3 separate regions of the Homo sapiens genome follow, and all the other regions are linked to region 3. Evidence: fine-mapped expression QTL. A gene starts in region 3. Each other region holds a variant in brackets. All regions are shown on one strand. Distances are between the middles of the regions. Region 1 has its middle 150 kb from the start of NNT-AS1. Region 2 overlaps NNT-AS1 (NNT antisense RNA 1). Region 3 holds the start of NNT (nicotinamide nucleotide transhydrogenase).

Region 1 (7,751 bases), 150 kb before region 3:
ATTCACTGAAAACCACACAATTACAAGGAAATTGAACAACTTGTCCCTGAATGACTCTTGGGTAAACAATGAAATTAAGGCAGAAATCAAGAAGTTATTTGAAACTAATGAGAACAAAGAGAGAACATACCAGAATCTCCGTCACAGCTAAAACAGTGTTAAGAGGGAAATTCATAGCACTAAATGCCCACATCAAAAAGCTGGAAAAATCTCATATGTACCCTAAAACTTAAAGTATAATAACAATAAAATTTTTTTAAAATGCTGGAAAAATCTCAAGTTAACAAGCTAGCATCACAACTAAAAGAACTAGAGAACCAAGAGCAAACAAACCCCAAAGTCAGCAGAAGACAGAAAATAACCAAGATCAGAGCAGAATTGAAGGAAACAGAGACATTAAAAACCCTTCAAAAAAATCAATGAATCCAGGAGCTGTTTTTTTTTAATTAATAAAGTAAATAGACTGCTAGCTAGACTATTAAAAAAGAAAAGAGAGAAGAATCCATTAAACACAATCAGCAATTATAAAGGGCATGTCACCACTGACCACACAGAAATACAATCATCAGAGAACACTATAAACACCTCTATGCACATAAACTAGAAAATCTAGAAGTTAATAAATTCCTGGACACATACACCTCCCAAGACTGAACCAGGAAGAAACTGAATCCCTGAACACAACAATTATGAGTTCTGAAGTAGTAATATATAGTCTACCAACCAAAATAAGCCCAGGACCAGACAAATTCACAGCTGAATTCTACCAGAGGTACAAAGAAGAACTAGTACCATTTCTAATGAAACTATTTCAAAAAATTGAAAGGGAGAGACTCCCAACTAACTCAATCTATGAGGCCAGCATATTCTGATACCAAAATCTGGCAGAGACACAACAAAAAAAAAAGAAAACTTCAGGCTAATCATCTTGATGAACTTCAATGCAAAACTCCTCAACAAAATACTTGCAAACTGAATCCAGCAACACATCAAAAAGCTTATCCACCATGATCCAGTTGACCTCATTCCCAGGATGCAAGGTTGGTTCAACATATGCAAATCAATAAATGTGATTCATCACATAAACAGAACTAACGACAAAAACCACATGATTATCTTCATAGATGCAGAAAAGGCTTTTGATAAAATTCAACATCCCTTCATGTTAAAAACTCTCAATAAACAGCTGGGCATGGTGGCTCATGCCTGTAATCCCAGCACTTTGGGAGGCCAAGGTGGGCAGATCACAAAGTCAGGAGTTTGAGAACAGGCTGGCCAATATGGTGAAACCCCATGTCTACTAAAAATACAAAAATTAGCCAGGCATGGTGGCAGGCACCTGTAGTGTCAGCTACTCAGGAGGCTGAGGCAGGAGAATGGCTTCAACCCAGGAGGCAGAGGTTACAGCTAGCTGAGATCATGCCACTGCAATCCAGCCTGGGTGACAGAGGGAGACTCTGTCTCAAATAAATAAATAAATAAACCCTCAATAAACTAGGTATTGAAGGAACATGCCTCAAAGTACTAAGAGACATATATGAAAAACTCACAGCCAATATCATACTGAATTGGCAAAACCTGGAAGCATTCCCCTTGAAAACCAGCACAAGACAAGGATGACCTCTTTCACCACTCCTATTCAACATAGTATTGCAAGTTCTGGCCACGGCAATCAGGAAAGAGAAAGAAATAAAGAGTATTCAAATAGAAAGAGAGGAAGTCAAATTATCTTTATTTGCAGATGACATGATCCTATAACTAGAAAATTCCATCATCTCAGCCCAAATGCTTCTTAAACTGATAAACAACTTCAGCAAAGTCTCAGGATATAAAATCGATGTGCAAAAACTGCTAGCATTCCTATAAATCAACAACAGGTAAGCAGAGAGCCAAATCATGAATGAACTCCCATTCACAATTGTTATAAAGAGAATAAAATACCTAGGAATAGAGGTAACAAGGGAAGTGAAGGACCTCTTCAAAGAGAAATACAGACCACTGCTCAAAGAAATTAGACAGGACACAAACAAATGGAGAAAATTCCAGCTCATGGATAGGGAGAATCAATATTGTGAAAATGGCCATACTCCCAAAAACAATTTATTAATTGTTAATAAATTAAATGCTATTCCCATTAAACAACCACTGACATTATTCACAGAATTTAAAAAAAGATTTTAAAATTCATATGGAGCCAAAAAAGGGTCCAAGCAGCCAAGATAATCCTAAGCAAAAAACAAAAAACAAAAACAAACCTGGAGGCATCACACTACCAGATTGCAACCTATACTACAAGACTACAGCAACCCAAACAGCATGGTGCTGTTATAAGAACAGACACATAGACCAATGGAACAGAACAGAGAACTCAGAAATAAGGCCACAAACCTACAACCATCTGATCTTCAACAAACTTGACAAAATCAGCAATGGGGAAAGGACTCCCCATTCAACAAATGGTGCTGGGAGTGCTGGCTAGCCATATCCAGGAAATTGGAACTGGACCCCTTCTTTACACCATATACAAAAATTAACTCAAAATAGATTAAAGCAATAGATTAAAGACTTAAATGTGAAACCCAAAACTATAAAAACCCTGGAAAAAATATAGAGAATACCATTCAGGACATAGGCACAGGTAAAGATTTCATGATGAAAATACAAAAAGGAATTGCAACAAAAGCAAAAATTGACAAATGGGATCTAATTAAACTAAAGAGCTTCTGCACAGCAAAAGAAACTATCATCAGTAGGACACAGCCAGATCTCATCTTGAATTGTAGTTCCCATAATCCCCACATGTCATGGGAGGGACCTGGTGGGAGGTAATTGAATCATGGGAGCAGGTTTTTCCCATGCTGTTCTTGTGATAGTAAATAAATCTCACAGGATCTGATGGTTTTATAAAGGGCAGTTCCCCTACCCATGCTCTCTTGTCTGCCACCATGTAAGATGTGCCTTTGTCCCTCCTTCACCTTCTGCCATGATTGCAGGGCCTCCCCACCCATTTTCAACAATGAGCCCCTTAAACCTGTTTTTCTTTATAAATTACCCAGTCTCAGGTATGTCTTTATTAGCATCATGAAAATGGACTAATACAGTAAATTGGTACCAGTAGAGTGGGGTGGTGCTGTAAGAATACCTAAAAATATGAAAGCAGCTTTGGAACTGGATAACAGACAGAGGTTGGAGCAGTGTGGGTGGAGTGCTCAGAAGAAAACACAGAAATGTGGGAAAGTCTGGAACTTCCTAGAGTTTGGATGGCTCAGAAGACAGGAAGATGTGAAAAAGTTTGGAACTTCCTAGAGACTTGTTGAATGGCTTTGACCAAAATGCTAATAGTAATATGAACAATAAAGTCCAGACTAAGGTAGCGGTCTCAGATGGAGATGAGGAACTTGTTGGGAAATGGAGTAAAGGTGACTCTTGTTACACTTTAGTAGCAAACAGACTGGTGAAATTTTGCCCCTGCCCTAGGATCTGTGGAGCTTTGAACTTGAGACTGATGATTTAGGCTATCTGGCAGAAGAAATTTCTAAGCAGCAAAGTGTTCTAGAGGAAACAAAATATAAAAGTTTGGAAAATTTGCAGCCTGACGATGCAATAGAAAACAAAAACCCATTTTCTGGGGAGAAATTCAAACGTGCTGCAGAAATTTGCATAAGTAACAAGGAGCCAAATGTTAATCACCAAGACAATGGTGAAAATGTCTCCAGGGCATGTCGGAGACCTTCCAGGCAGCCCATCCCATCACAGGCCTGGAGGCCTAAGAGGAAAAACTGATTTCACAGGCTGGGCCCAGGACTCCCCTGCTGTGTGCAGCTAGGGACTTGGTGCCCTGTGTCTCTGCCATTCCAGCCATGGCTAAAAGGGGCCAAGGTATGGCTCAGGCAGTGGCTTCAGTGGGTGCAAGCCTCAAGCCTTGGCAGCTTCCACGTGGTGTTGAGCCTTCAGGTACACAGAAGTCAATAATTGAGGCTTGGGAACCTCCACCTAAATTTCAGATGTGTGGAAACCCCTGGATATTCAGGCAGA[A/G]GTTTGCTGCAGGGGCAGGGCCCCCATGCAGAACCTCTGCCAGGGCAGTGAGGAAGGCAAATGTGAGGTTGGAGGTCCCACACAGAGTCCCTACTGGGGCGCCGCCTAGTGGAGCTGTGAGAAGAGGGCCACAGTCCTCCAGAACCCAGAATGTTAGATCAACCAACAGCTTGCACCATGCACCTGGAAAAGCCACAGACACTCAATGCCAGGCCATGAAAGCAGCCAGGACTGGGGCTCTAACCTGCAAAGCCACAGGGACAGAGCTGCCCAAGGATGTGGGAGCCCACCTCTTGCATCAGCATGACCCGGATGTGAGACATGGAGTCAAAGGAAATCATTTTGGAACTTTAAAGTTTAATGACTGTCCTATTGGATTTTGGAATTGCGTGGGATCTATAGACCCTTTGTTTTGACTGTTTTCTCCCATTTGGAATGGGTGTATTTACCAAATGCCTGTACCCTCATTGTATCTAGGAAGTAACTTACTTGTTTTTGATTTTACAGGCTCACAGGCAAAAGGGACTTGCCTCGTCTCAGATGAGACTTTGGACTATGGACTTTTGAGTTAATGCTGAAATGAGTTAAGACTTTGGGGGATGGTTGGGAAGGCATGATTGGTTTCAAAATGTAAGGACATGAGATTTGGGAGGGGCCAGGGACAGAATAATATGGTTTGGCTCTGTCCTCACCCAAATCTCATTTTGAATTGTAGTTCCCATAATCTCCACATGTTGTGGGAGGGGCCCAATGGGAAGTAATTGAATCATGGGAATGGGTTTTTCCCATGCTGTTCTCATGATAGGAAATAAGTCTCACAAGATCTGATGGTTTTATAAAGGGCAGTTGCCCTGCATATTCTCTCTTGCCTGCCACCATGTAAGATGTTGCTTTGCTCTTCCTTCACCTTCCACCATGATTGTGAGGTCTCATCAGCCGTGTGGAACTGTGAGTCCATTAAACTTCTTTTTCCTTATAGACCCAGTCTTGGATGTCTTTATTAGCAGCGTGAGAACAGACTAATACAGTCAGTGCAAACAGACAACCTACAGAATAGGAGAAAATTTTTGTAGATCTATCCATCTGACAAAGGCCTAATATCTAGAGTCTACAAGGAACTTAAACAAATCTATAAGCAAAACAAACAACCCCATTAAAAAGTGGGCAAAGGACATGAACAGACACTTTTCAAAAGAATACATACATGTGGCCAACAAACATATGAAAAGAAAAGCTTAACATCATTGATCATTAGAGAAATGCAAATCAAGACTGCAATGAGATACCATCTCATGCCGGTCAGAATGGTGATTATTAAAAAGTCAAAAAACTCAGGAGGCTGAGGCAGGAGAATGGCATGAACCCGGGAGGTGGAGCTTGCAGTGAGCCAAGATCACTCCACTGCACTCCAGCCTGGGCAACAGAGCGAGACTCTGTCTCAAAAAAGAAAAAAAGTCAAAAAACATAATACCAAATTGTTAAGAAAAGGAAAAACAGTCAAAAAACAACAGATGCTATCAAGGTTGTGGAGAAAAAGGAACACTTTTACACTGTTGGTAGGAGTGTACATTAATTCAACCATGTGGAAGACAGTGTGGTGACTCCTCAAAGACCTAAAGGCAGAAATACTATACAACCCAGCACTCCCATTACTGGGTATATACCCAAAGGAATATAAATCATTCTATTATAAAGATACATGCACACATATGTTCATTGCAGCACTCTTCACAATAGCAAAGATGTAGAATCAACCTTGGTGTCCATCAATAGTGGACTGGATAAAGAAAATGTGGTACATATACACTGTGGAATACTATGTAGCCATAAAAAGGAATGAGATCATGTCCTTTGTAGGGACATGGATCAAGCTGGAAGCTATTATCCTCAGCAGGAACAGAAAACCAAACACTTCATGTTCTCACTTATAAGTGGGAGCTGAATGATGAGAACACATGGACACATTAGGTGGAAGAAATAACACACACTGGGGCCTGTCAGGGGTAGTGTGTCAGGAAGGGAGAGCATCAGGAAGAATAGCTAATGGATGCTGGGCTTAATACCTTGGTGATGGGATGATCTTTGTAACAATCCACCATGGCACATGTTTCCCTATGTAACAAACCTGCACATAACGCACATGTACCCCTGAACTTAAAATAAGTTGAAACAAACAACAACAAAAAAAAACAGAGAGTGAGGCTGAGGGGTGGAGAGATTGGGGAGATGTCGGTCAAAGGAAACAAAATTTTGTTTAGACAGGAGAAATAAGTTCAAGAGATCTACTGTATATCATGGTGACTACAGTTAATAACAGTATACTATATATTTGAAAATTGCTAAGTGAGTAGATTTAAGCGTTCTCACCACAAAGAAATAAGTATGTGAGGTAATGCTTATGTAAAATAGCTTAGTCATTCCACATTGCATATACATATATATATAAACATGTTATACAACATATTTATAATATTTACTTATCAGATTTTACAAATAATTTTTTTAAAAAAATTAAAAATTAAAATAAGTACCTTGCAACTCTAAAGCAAATAAATTTAACCAACAAGTTGGTAGATTATCTGTACAGAGAATTATTTTTTTCAAGTGACTTTAAAAGACAATCATTTGTATATCCTTATTGGTGTATATTCTACAAGTGAAAACTGCAAGATAAAATCAAGCTGTTTTAAATAAATAAATAAACCTAATTGTACATAAAGTTGATGGAATAGCTTAAATGTAGTATCTGTATTGTACATCAGTGGTGGAATATATCCTAAGGACACAAAGAACCCCCCCAAAATCTTAAACTGCATTAAATGTCATGCCATTAGTAGTAGCAACATAATTGTTATTTTGAAATTACTATATAAGTATATTTTTTAAAACCTGAATACTATGTATATTCGGATAAAATAAATAATATATTAATATCATTAGGAATCATGATTCAGTGTAAAAGAAAAAAGATGCCCTTGTAAAATCAAAATGATTAAATAAAAGTCCTATAATCTTACATTTGAATATAAAATATCACAATAAAATAATTACTTTTCTCTTTCTAAAAAACAAATGTTTACTAATTAGCTCTGACCACTGTAAAAGCTTGGGAATAATAACAACTCAGTGGCAATAAGCACACCAAACACACAGATCTCTAAACACCACTTTTAAGTTGGGCAAGTAATGTACAAGATAAGTCTGAGAACCTATCATGCCAGAAATCAAGAAAGCTGTCAGAAACTACCAGGGTCATGCTAGAATAACATAGAAACCAACTCAAATTGACTCACTGGCTGAAGAGGACTCACAGAGCAAAGAAATTTTGAGCATAAAACACACACGCATATCAAATATATAAAGATCCATAAATTTACAAGTACAGAAAAAAATGACAATTACCTACTTGGTTATCATTTAATTTCTAGGTCTCCAATTCATTATTCTGAAATAATAAACTAACAGTAAAGGGAAATAATTATTTATCTTGTTTTTTTCCACAAATTCTACTTGAGAGTAACCAAACTGTTAATAAGGAAAAGAATTTCTACTCTAATGTAGGAATAATAGAACTACACGATCGTCATTAAAGGCTGCTAAAGCCATCAGATGAGGAATAATAGAACTACACCATCATCATTAAAGGCTGCTAAAGCCATCAGATGAAAGTAGTTGGAAATCTTTTTTTTTTCTTTTGAGATGGAGTTTCACTCTGT
Region 2 (7,751 bases), 25 kb after region 3:
TGTGTTTATAGACAGACCAAATTAAAATAAAGACATATAATAGTATCATGGCTAACCTTAGAAATTCTCTTGACAAAATTAAACAGCAAAAATCTGACCTAACACAAAGTGAAAATCATAACTGAAGGGGTGGGTTGCCCCTCCACACCTGTGGGTGTTTCTCGTTAGGTGGAACGAGAGACTTGGAAAAGAAAAAGACACAGAGACGAAGTATAGAGAAAGAAAATAAGGGGACCCAGGAAACCAGCGTTCAGCATATGGAGGATCCCGCCAGCCTCTGAGTTCTCTTAGTATTTATTCATCATTTTTGGGTGTTTCTCAGAGAGGGGGATGTGGCAGGGTCATAGGATAATAGTGGAGAGAAGGTCAGCAGATAAACACGTGAACAAAGGTCTCTGCATCATAGACAAGGTAACGAATTAAGTGCTGTGCTTTAGATATGCATACACATAAACATCTCAATGCCTTACAAAGCAGTATTGTTGCCCGCATGTCCCACCTCCAGCCCTAAGGCAGTTTTCCCCCATCTCAGTAGATGGAACATACAATCGGGTTTTATACCGAGACATTCCATTGCCCAGGGACGGGCAGGAGACAGATGGCTTCCTCTTGTCTCAACTGCAAAGAGGCATGCCTTCCTCTTATACTAATCCTCCTCAGCACAGACCCTTTACGGGTGTTGGGCTGGGGGATGGTCAGGTCTTTCCCTTCCCAGGAGGCCATATTTCAGACTATCACATGGGGAGAAACCTTGGACAATACCTGGCTTTCCTAGGCAGAGGTCCCTGGGTACTTGAGATTAGGGAGTGGTGAAGACTCTTAATGAGCATGCTGCCTTCAAGCATCTGTTTAACAAAGCACATCTTGCACCGCCCTTAATCCATTTAACCGTAAGTTGACACATCACATGTTTCAGAGAGCACGGGGTTGGGGGTAAGGTTATAGATTAACAGCATCTCAAGGCAAAAGAATTTGTCTTAGTACAGAACAAAATGGAGTCTCCTATGTCTACTTCTTTCTACACAGACACAGTAACAATCTGATCTCTCTTTCTTTTCCCCACAATAACATATGTGCTCAAACTGTCTGTAGGATTCACAATAAAGCTGCTCCACCTTTCAGTCCAGTAATTAAAATTCTGTGCTTTCACTACTGTGGTCTGGGTTTGATTACCAGTCAGGGAACCAGTACCTTTTGGTCTGATATTTGTGTGACTTTTGGCTTTTTGGGGTACCCATTTGTTGTTGATCATTTTCTGTTTCATGGACAGCTTTTGATTTTCTGCCTCCTTCCATCTGTGGGGGCGTATGAGGCTTTTGGGCCTTTGTGTGTAGACAGTCAGCTGAGAAGTTGAGACACTAGAGAATATGGCTGGACAGATGTGGGTTGAATCCCGTTTGCGGCTACTGAAACTTTATTTTCTTTGAACTGTCTTTCAGTGCATCTGCATCTTGTGAGGACTGCTTTTTACCTCTTTGGAGACACCTCATGTGTCCTTAGTTAAATTGTTGAGTCACTTGCAAAGTTACCTTTCATAAAAAAGTTTAAAAGTCAGGAATATTAGCTATTTGTCCTAGCCAAAATCCAATAATAAAAGATCTGAAAATATATTTTTAAAAAGCTCTATGATCAGAAGTCAGCTTAATTAGAAGCTAATATTCAACATATATGTTGAATATATCGTTATATACATAAATATATAATATACATATATTTATATTATATTATATTATAACTATATTAAATATATAGGTATATATTTAATATAGTTATATATTTATATAAATATATACCTATATATTTATAGAAATATATTTAATTTATATTTAATTTATATTATATTATATTATAAATATATTGTTATATATTTATATATTATATTTTATTTATATATTATATAAATGTATAATATTATGTTATATATTATATATAACATATAATATATAAATATTATAAAATATATAATAGATAAAATATTTTTATATTATATATTATAATATATAAATGTATTATTACAATATATAAATATATGTGTATATAAATATGCAAAAATATATTTATATAAATATATGTATATAAATATGCAAAAATATATTTATATAAATATATATATTTAAAGGCCTTTCTGCCTTTTTTCTTTGGGATCCTATTTCTGAGGATTTTTCTAGTTTACTGAAACTTCTTTTAATTGTATATTTGGTCTTTTTGTATGCTTCATTTCTTGTGGTATGATTTTTGTTAAGAAAAGCGTAAAACTTCATTGGCTTTTTGTTCCTCCTTTCTCTTTGCTGTCTTGAATATCACATAAAAGGATCTGTGGGAACATCTAAAGACCCTGTAAGAAACATAGAAAACCCTCTCCCTCCCCCTCCCCCTCCCCCTCCCCCTCTCCCGAGCCGAAGCTGGACTGTACTGCTGCCATCTCGGCTCACTGCAACCTCCCTGCCTGATTCTCCTGCCTCAGCCTGCCCAGTGCCTGCAATTGCAGGCGCGCGACGCCACGCCTCACTGGTTTTCGTATTTTTTTGGTGGAGACGGGGTTTCGCTGTGTTGGCCGGGCTGGTCTCCAGCTCCTAGCCACGAGTGATCCGCCAGCCTCGGCCTCCCGGGGTGCCGGGATTGCAGACGGAGTCTGGTTCACTCAGTGCTCAATGGTGCCCAGGCTGGAGTGCAGTGGCGTGATCTCGGCTCGCTACAACCTCCACCTCCCAGCCGCCTGCCTTGGCCTCCCAAAGTGCCGAGATTGCAGCCTCTGCCCGGCCGCCACCCCGTCTGGGAAGTGAGGAGCGTCTCTGCCTGGCCGCCCATCGCCTGGGACGTGAGGAGCCCCTCTGCCTGGCTGCCCAGTCTGGAAAGTGAGGAGCATCTCTGCCCGGCCGCCATCCCATCTAGGAAGTGACGAGCGCCTCTTCCCGGTCGCCATCCCATCTAGGAAGTGAGGAGCGTCTCTGCCCGGCCGCCCATTGTCTGAGATGTGGGGAGAGCCTCTGCCCCGCCGCCCCGCCTGGGATGTGAGGAGCGCCTCTACCCGGCCGCGACCCTGTCTGGGAGGTGAGGAGCGTCTCTGCCCGGCCGCCCCGTCTGAGAAGTGAGGAGACCCTCCGCCTGGCAACCGCCCGTCTGAGAAGTGAGGAGCCCCTCCGCCCGGCAGTCACCCCGTCTGGGAAGTGAGGAGCGTCTCCGCCCAGCAGCCACCCCGTCCGGGAGGGAGGTGGGGGTCAGCCCCCGCCAGGCCAGCTGCCCCGTCCGGGAGGGAGGTGGGGGGGTCAGCCCCCCGCCCGGCCAGCCGCCCCGTCCGGGAGGTGAGGGGCGCCTCTGCCCAGCCGCCCCTACTGGGAAGTGAGGAGCCCCTCTGCCCGGCCACCACCCCGTCTGGGAGGTGTACCCAACAGCTCATTGAGAACGGGCCATGATGACAATGGCGGTTTTGTGGAATAGAAAGGGGGGAAAGGTGAGGAAAAGATTGAGAAATCGGATGGTTGCTGTGTCTGCGTAGAAAGAGGTAGACATGGGAGACTTTTCATTTTGTTCTGTACTAAGAAAAATTCTTATCCTGTTGATCTGTGACCTTACCCCCAACCCTGTGCTCTCTGAATCATGTGCTGTGTCCACTCAGGGTTAAATGGATTAAGGGCGGTGCAAGATGTGCTTTGTTAAACAGATGCTTGAAGGCAGCATGCTCGTTAAGAGTCATCACCACTCCCTAATCTCAAGTACCCAGGGACACAAACACTGCGGAAGGCCGCAGGGTCCTCTGCCTAGGAAAACCAGAGACCTTTGTTCACTTGTTTATCTGCTGACCTTCCCTCCACTATTGTCCTATGACCCTGCCAAATCCCCCTCTGCGAGAAACACCCAAGAATAATCAATAAAAATAAATAAATAAATAAATAAATAAAATAATAAATAAATAAAAAGAAACATAGAAAAGCTACCACTCACCCACTTTATGGGAATGATCTTCTGTCTTCCTGTGGAGTCTGAAGAGTCATGGGCAAGTTCTTATCAGGTCTAAAGCTCCACTCTCCTTTGCATTGCATTACCTGGTCTCTTTGGCTTTGGGGGTTCAAGGAATTACTTTGACCTATTAGAGAATTTGACCTTGTGTATGCAATGGCTGGTGGGTCACTGGTGAGGGCTGCAGTTTTGGAGGTAGCTGACAGTGGTTGCAATTAATAGTTATTACTGTATGTAGGCTACTTGTTGCTTTGCTCTATTCTATAAAAAAGACATAGTTGAATACATGGAGACTGTGGGAATACTCACCACCAAGGAATAACTATCCCATGGTGGA[T/C]GGGCTGATCACAGAATGGGCTGATTGATATGGGTCTCCCACCCACTAATACCTGACACACAATCTGTCACTCTCACTAATGCCTCACACACCCCCACCAGCCTCAGGGTGACATCTTTGTAGTGAGGTGTACTCTGGAAACACTGTGCAGCCCAGTCCTTTGGTGTTTCCCTCTTTTGTGGGGGACCCAGGGTTCAGTGTAAAAGTAGAATCCTTGATTTTTAAAAATCTAGATGCTCTGTCTTCCAGCTGTGCCTACTTTTTACATATACAAATATTAGGCCCTAAAAACTGCAAATGCTTTGTTTGCCCTGTTCCTTAATGGGCTCTGCCCAGAACTCAGTGGTCTAAGTAGAAAACAGATACTAAATTAGAAGCCACCTATATGACTAGATTGGTCTCCAAAATATGACTTTCTGACATTTAGGTGTTTGTTTTTGTTTTTGGTAGGGTTTTCTGTATTTTTTGTTTCGTTTTGTTTTTGTTTTTGTTTTTTGAGACAGTGTATTAGGCCATTCTTGAGTTACTATAAAGAAATTCCTGAGACTGGGTAATTTATAAGAGGTTTAGTTGGTTCACAGTGCTGCAGGCTGTACAAGAGGCATAGTGCCAGCATTTGCTTCTGGAGAGTCCTTAGGAAGCTTACAATCATGGTGAAAGGAAAAGGGGGAGGAGGCACATCTCACAGCAAAAGCAGGAATAAGAGAAAGAGAGTATGGGGGGAGGTGCCACATACTTTAAAATGACCAGATCTTGCAAAAACTCACTTGGCACCAAGGGGACAGCCCTAGCCATTCATGAGGGACCTGCCCCCATGATCCAAATACCTCCCACCAGTTATTACATTTCAACATGAGATTTGGGTGGGGACAAATATCCAAACCATATCAGACTGGGTCTTAATCTGTTGTCCAGGCTGGAATGCAGTCACACAATCACAGCTCACTGCAGCCTCAACTTCCTGGGCTCAAGCAATGTCCTCATCCTCCTACCTCAGCCTCTCAAGTAGCTGCTATTACAGGCACACGCCACCATGCCTGGCTAATTTTGTTGCTTTTGTAGAGACAAAGTTATATACCATGTTGCCCGGGCTTAGCTAGTTATTTTTAAAAGGCTTCTGAATTTCCTCTCTGCTCATTTGTATCTTTCATTGTAACATCCTATGTGAATTTCTATAATTTTGTGTCACATTGGTGTGTTTGTCTGTTTTGTGTTGCTATAAAGGAATACCTGAGGCTTGGTGATTTATAAAGAAAAGTTTATTTGGCTCACTATTCTGCAGGCTGTACAAGAAGCATGATGCCAGCATCTGCTTCTGGTGACAACCTCAAGAAGTTTACAATTGGCCGCGTGCGGTGGCTCATGCCTGTAATGCCAGCACTTCGGGAGGCGGAGACAGATGGATCATTTGAGGTCAGGAGTTCGAGACCAGGCTGGCCAACATGGTGAAACCCCATCTCTACTAAAAATACAAAAATTAGCTGGGCATGGTGGCATGTGTCTGGAATCCCTGCTACTCAGGAGGCTGAGGCAAGAGGATCACTTGGAACTTGGGAGGCAGAGGTTGCTGTGAGCTGAGATCACACCACTGTACTCCAGCCTGGGCAACAGAGTGATACTCTATCTCAAAAAAAAAAGAAAGAAAGAAAGAAAAGAAAAAGAAGCTTACAATCATGGTGGAAGGCGAAGAGGAGGAGCAGGCATATCACATGGCCAAAAAGGGAGCAAGAGAAAGGTGAGAAAGACACTAGACTCTTTTTAAAACCAGCTCTCACATGAGCTAATGGAATAAGAACTCACTCATTACCACAAGGACAGAACCCAGCCATTCATGAGGGACCTGCCACCATGACCCAAAAACCTCCTACTTGACCCAACCTCCAACACTGGGGATAACATTTCAACATGAGATTTGAAGAGGACAAATACTCAAACTATATCACTTGTTGTCCATTTTTAATCTTTCTCTAACATACCCTAACTTCTTCTTGAAAATGCTTAATTTTCTCTGTTTTGAGATGTAAATTTGCTATCCTGTTTTTCTTAAAACTTGGTAAGATCTTCAGCCATGAAGGACAGACAAACTGTAACCTTTCCATTTACAAAGCTGCATTTGAATTCAACTGTCCTTTTAAACTAAGGAGTTTTACTGGTCTCGTGGCTAAAATTTTAAAGATGTAGGCCAGGTGCAGTGGCTCATGCCTGTAATCCTATCACTTTTGGAGACCAAGGCGGGGATGGATCACCTGAGGTCAGGAGTTCAAGACCAGCCTGGCCAACATGATGAAACTCCATCTCTACTAAAAATACAAAAATTAGTCAGGCATGGTGGCACACACCTGTAATCCCAGCTACTCGGGAGGCTGAGGCAAGAGAATGGCTTGAACCCGGGCGACGGAAGTTGCAGTGAGGCGAGATTGCACCATTGCACTCCAGCCTGGGCAATAAGAGTGAAACTCTGTCTCAAAAAAAGAAAAAATGATATAAAGTATTTATTTGTGTTTATATTTTATGGATACGTGTCTATGTTTATAGATTGCCTGTATGGTACCAACTTGACATAAATAAATTAGTACTCATAAATTAAGTAAATAAGCCCAAACGCTTTTCAAGTTCACAGGGCATTAGTAATCTGTGGTAAATGAAGATAGTTTAAAATTTGGGGTAAAATAAAATAGAAACATTTTCTGAATTTAATTTAGATATTTTTCTGGGTCTATTTGTTAGACAGGTTTACACTATCTCTGCTATTTTTTTAAGGACCTAAAACTGAATGGACATAGAAAATTGAGGAAAGAAATAAAACCGTAACAATTATAAGAGGTTATAAAAGGTTCATGGAACCTTTTTATGTTTTTTCTTGTGCAGTCAAAACCAATTGCAGGCTGGATGCAGTAGCTCACACTTGTAATCCCAGCACTTTGGGAGGCTGAGATGGGCAGATCACTTGAGCTCAGGAGTTTGAGACCATCCTGGGCAACATAGTGAAACTCTCTCACTACCAAAGTACAAAAGGAATTAGCTGGGCATGATGGTACACACTTGTAGTCCCAGCTACTTGGGGGACTGAGATGGGAAAATTGCTTGAGCCCGGGAGTCAAAGGTTGCAGTAAGCCAAGATTGCACCACTACACTCCAGCCTGGGTGACAAAGTGAGACCCTGTCTCAAAAAAAAACAAAAAAAGGAAAAGAAAACAATTGCAATTGGATTGATCTGTTTATAAGGCTTTATTAAAATTAGCTTTAGCATTTATAATACACTGGCACAAAGTTAGAATTTGGATTTCTCTTTTGAACAAGATTTTTGTATACATTAATAAGAAATAGTAAAAGATTTTTGTTTACCTTTTGAGTAAACTGCAAAAAATATTAGTAATAAGAGGAGAGAATTTCCCTAATGCTGTTTTTATTATGTCTTTTGATTGTTTGGAAAACTGAATCTCCCCTCTGTCAAAGA
Region 3 (5,000 bases):
GGGTTCACGCCATTCTCCTGCCTCAGCCTCCCGAGTAGCTGGGACTACAGGCGCCCGCCACCGCGCCCGGCTAATTTTTTGTATTTTTAGTAGAGACGGGGTTTCACCTTGTTAGCCAGGATGGTCTCGATCTCCTGACCTCATGATCCACCCGCCTCGGCCTCCCAAAGTGCTGGGATTACAGGCGTGAGCCACCGCGCCCGGCCCAAAAGCACAACTTTTTAAGCATTGCTTTCATATGTATGTTTAATGTAACTTATATGGGTTATTTCCCCTATTAGATATTAAAATCCTTGAGGGAAAGCACCCAACCTAAAGAGGGAGGATACCACAGATATTTAAGAGAGTCAGCTCTGGATCTGCGGATTGGAAGCCCCACTCTGCAACTTATTGGCTGTGTGACCTTGGGAAGTCACTTAACTTCCCTGTACTTAATTTCCTCATCTTTAAAATGGGGAATAATAGCACCCACCCAGGGTGGTGGCTCACGCCTATAATGCCATCTCTTTGGGAGGCTAGTGGGGAGGACTGCTTGAGGCCAAGAATTCAAGACTAGCCTGGCCAACACAGTGAGACCCCCATTGCTAAAAAAAAAAAATTAATTAGCAGGGCATGGTGGTGCAAGCCTGAAGTCCCAGCTACTTGGGAGTCTGAGGTGGGAGAATCACTTGAGCCCAGGAGTTCCAGGCTGCAGTAAGCCGTGATTGTGCCACTGTACTCCAGCTTGGACAACAGAGCGAGACTTGAAAAAATAAAATAACAGCACCTACCTCTCAGGGTTGTTGCCAGGACTGAGAATATCCTTATCAGCTGTTATATTCACTTTGGTATTACTCTCCCCCAGTGCTTTGCACAACACAGAGGAAGTCAGTATTTTTGACTGAATGAATAGGGCTAGGTGACCTTAAGCCTAAGTACCTATTGAGCACATTTTCCAAGGATTTTCGGAAAATTTCCTTTGAAAAGGAAATGTTTGTGTAGCCTTGTGGAAAACTGATTCTATCACCAAGGTAAGCAGCCTAAGCGCACCTGCTGGAAAGAAGGCAATCCTAAACTGTCTGTTAATAAAAAGTCAAGGTTTACAAATAAAAGGGGTGCAATGAAGAAAAGGGGCACACTTTAAATAAGAAGAGTAGGTAGGCACCTAAGCCCCACGCGCTTCTCCGAATAAGTCTGTCCTACAAGACTCCTGACAAACAGACCACCTAAGGACTGGCCGGCGCCACAGGGTGAATAAAGGACACCGGCAACCATAAACAAGTCACGCTTTTAAAAGCGAGACATACCAGCAAGGACACAATACCCTACTGAGCCAGCTTCGGCTGGCAGGCGCCGTGACCTCACCCAAAGCCACTGGTGTCACGGCTACTGCCACCGGTGCCGTCCCTTGCTCGGCAACTAACTGCCACCCGCTGGCATCTGCACGAGACCGCTATTTATAACCTCCCTAGGAAGCCGATTGGCCACGGCTGCAAATAGTCATTCCGGCTGTTGAGTTTGAACTAGCTCTGCCCAGGTCGCCCTCTCCGCTGTCTCTTCCTCCTCACCAGCCTAGGCCCCAGAAACTTGTACCCACCACCGCCAGACCGCCCCAACTCACACTCACAATTTGTGCTCGCAATCTCCTATGTCCCCAGCCGGACACCCTCTCCGAACTCCCTCAAGGGTCAAGCATACCTCAAGGGCATCCAGCTGCCACCTCTCTGGATGAACCGCCCATCGAAAGTCCTCTATGACCTCCCTCTCCACCACCCCCGATCTTGAGGGCCGAAATGACCCCGTACGACTCTCGCTGTCCCCCAAAGCTGCAAATATCTGCACCTGCACAGCTGCCGCCTCATTCCCTGCCCTCTTCGGGGACCCAGTTCCCAAATCCACCAGCCCACTCCCTTCGACATCGCCCCAGCAGGAGACGAGAAAGGGACACCAAGAGGCACGGTGCTTCTTCCCCACCTAAGCCTGCGGCCTGCGGACACCCCAATGCACCCTGCGCCCGGGACACCGCCGACCCCGCCCCGCTTTGCTCTTTGACAGGTCTCTCTCCCGGCGAGGGCCGTGGTCTTCAGGAAAGGCCCGAGCCCCTTTCCCAGCTGCGCCCTAGGCGCGCGCCCCGGCTGCCCGCACCCGCCAGTGCCGTCGCGCTCACCTGGGCCGGGAGGCTGACAGCCTTGGGCTGTGCCCTGAGGGCCGCGAGAGGACGTCGCGCTGGCAGACCCGGGCTTGGGCCCCGCGGCGCTGCGCCTCCAACCCGGAAGAACAGCCCCAACTCCGCGGCGGCGGGCGGCCACGTGACTGCAGCTCCGCTCCCACCTCGGCCCGCGCCCCTTCCCCGCCCCAGCTTTCTTCCCGCCAGGCCCCCTCCACCCGATCGCCGCGCGCTCTCCGAACCAAAAGGCGACCTCACGAAATGCCCCTTTGAGCTCAAAGGCTAGTTACCCCCAGGGGCCCTTCCACTCTCGGGGACAGGCGAAACCTCTTTGTCTCTGCCTCGGCCTGCGGCCCCCAGCCCAGCCTCCGCGCTTTCCCTCCGCCAGTCCTTGTCAATCAAACCTGGTGCCAAACGCGGCAGCTGAAGTTTTCAGGGACACATTTGCTTCTCCCCTTGAAGAACCAGTTACAAAGCGTGATGTCCTCTCTGGGGTCCCATCAGAACAAAGAAACAGGTAATATAACTCCACTCCGGGTACCTGCCTTTCCTCCAGCTCGCTAGGAAAAATCAGAACTTCTGTAACAGAGAGGACCCAAGGGAAAGGGGCAGGCGGAGAGGGGTTGGTGAAGGGCGGGAATGGGGGGCGTTGATTTTCCATTCTGGCAGGAGAGGTGGAGTTAAATTCCTCAGAAACGATGTCCAGGCTTGAAAAGTAACACACATCTGCGTGCTTGTCTTCCAACATCAGAGCCAGCCTAGAGGAAGCTGGCTAGTGTCACTGCTAGTACGAATATCCCCGAGGCTGGAAAGCATCTGGGTGGAGGTTGTGAGCTTTCCAGACCAGGCCTCGGCTGTTTTTCTAAAACTATTAACCGTAATGACCTAGTCGTTCTTTTCACACAGTTCTGTTACTTATTCTGCAGGTGTATTCTGACTAAAAGTGGGAGGAATAAAAAATAGAGTGTAAAATGGTTCACTTGCCCAAAACTTAATCATCATGAAGTGTCAGTAACGTCATTTATTTCTATTAATTGAAATTTTGATACAAGAAAAATAATTATGAATCTAAAAGGTATAAGCAGAACAGGTATTCCATAACTTTAAAAAGAAATGAGCCGCAGGGAAACCCTTAGTTTGAGAACTTGTCTTGTGATTAACCTACACAGAAGGTCATTCAACTAATGGATTCCCACTGCAGTCCAAACTCACAGACAGGAAATGACACAGCCCCATGTTTTAAAATAATAATGAGCCGTGGTAAGTGTGACCATAGGGACGGTTTCCAGATACTGAAGGTACAATGAAGTGAGATTAGTAATGATCCCACTTAGTAAGGATTTTAAACTAAGTTATTGATTTAAAACTTTTTGTAGGGGTCAGGAGTTGCTGCTTTGTCTTTTAGGGATTAATAATTCGTGGTTCCCAACTGGGGACAATTTAGTTCCGAGGGATATTTGGCAATGTCTAGAGACATTTTGGTTGTCACAATTGGAGAGGGGACCTATCTAATGGGTTGGGGCCAGGGATATTACTGAACACCTCACACTACACAGCCCCTCACGACGAAGCATTATCCAGCCCCAAATGTCAATAGTGCTGAGGCTGAAAAATCCTGGCTTAAATTAATGCTCAGTACATTATTTAATTTTGACTTGCTTATAAATTTATATCACATGAAAACAAACTCAAAGATAACATACTGTTTTTCACTTTTGAAAATCATGAATGTTAGGCATATGATAATTTTAATAACAAGCATATGATTATTTTATTCCGCTTACTTGTACAACATAATTTGGGTGCCATTTCTTCAGGAGAAAACATTTGTCATTTGGAATGCTCTGTTTCAGTCCTTAAGCTTCTACGTATAATTACAGCATATTATTCATAAACGGAGTCCCCAATGAAAATAGGATTAAGTTCCAAAAGTTTGCTTTTAAGTTAGTTGCTTCTAAGTCTTAGACACTGTCTTGAATAAAATTTTTGTAGAGATTTGATATTCCCTATTAAGTTTTAAGGGCCTTTCCCACTCTGACTTCTACTCTTTCCTCCCTGACTAATTTGACCTGCAAACTCTCATCTTAAAATAGTACCTCTCACATATGTGTAAGTTTTCATTACAGATTGTTCTATTATTGAATAATTTTTAAAATATTTTAAAATTAAAATAAACATCAAAATTTAAACCATTTGAAGTTTAGGAGTTTTTGTAGTCACAAATGCTTAAAAATAGTTTTTAATAATTAGAGTTCTAATCTATCAGAAGCAAAAAGGATGAAACATTTACAAGACTATAATATAACATTTGGATCTGCTTTAAAGCCTAAAAACCAGAGAGGTGCCCAGTAGCCAAAAATCAAAACATAGGCTGAACCTGAGAAGACATGTAATCAAAAACTGACCTCTAGTGATGGCTTGTTACCAAAACCCACCATCTAGGTAAAATCAGGCTACAGAAAAGGTAGCTTTAATGTCTTTTCATTGTGGTTATTATGTTACATGGTTATTGGCAATTTATTGTCTCAGCTTCCCTTTTATAAATAATTATTAGTAAAGTGAACAGCCCCAGAGAGATGGGATTCTTAGATTTCAGTGTGTCTAACAATGCAGACACTCGACAGGTTTTAAGGGAACCATCACTAACCTTAATCTTAGCCCTCTTCTCCCAGGCTGACCAATCAAGAGTGTTTGATTTTAGGAAATAAATGTTAACTGACTAAATGAGCTGATGCTAATCAACATTAACTGGAAGAAAAAAGAGAACTGATATTAAAGAGCCAGCACAAAGTTCAACAATTGGCATTTGTTTAAGCTACATAAGTAAAACCAGTTTGCATTTGAAATTTCTGTG

The links. PIP is the estimated chance that this variant, and not a neighbour inherited with it, causes the effect.
Region 1: its variant is fine-mapped to the expression of NNT in whole blood (INTERVAL, PIP 0.95).
Region 2: its variant is fine-mapped to the expression of NNT in whole blood (INTERVAL, PIP 0.92).

Annotation. Positions count from the first base shown.
Region 1 is chr5:43,749,663-43,757,413 of GRCh38, reverse strand. No RefSeq gene overlaps it. Among named protein-coding and RNA genes, the nearest start is that of NNT-AS1, 150 kb to the right of the region's middle. The variant A/G (reference allele first, on the strand shown) is at 4,036.
Region 2 is chr5:43,573,761-43,581,511 of GRCh38, reverse strand. It overlaps NNT-AS1 (NNT antisense RNA 1), which reads left to right. Exons shown (of 3, transcript NR_073113.1): 3 at 5,577-7,751. Among named protein-coding and RNA genes, the nearest start is that of PAIP1, 21 kb to the right of the region's middle. RefSeq lists an enhancer at 274-1,020. The variant T/C (reference allele first, on the strand shown) is at 4,295.
Region 3 is chr5:43,600,441-43,605,440 of GRCh38, reverse strand. NNT (nicotinamide nucleotide transhydrogenase) reads right to left here and starts at 2,261. Exons shown (of 22, transcript NM_182977.3): 1 at 2,147-2,261. NNT-AS1 (NNT antisense RNA 1) reads left to right here and starts at 2,211. Exons shown (of 3, transcript NR_073113.1): 1 at 2,211-2,663. RefSeq lists silencers at 2,001-2,220, 2,341-2,430, 2,694-2,913, a cis regulatory region at 4,152 and an enhancer at 4,068-4,237.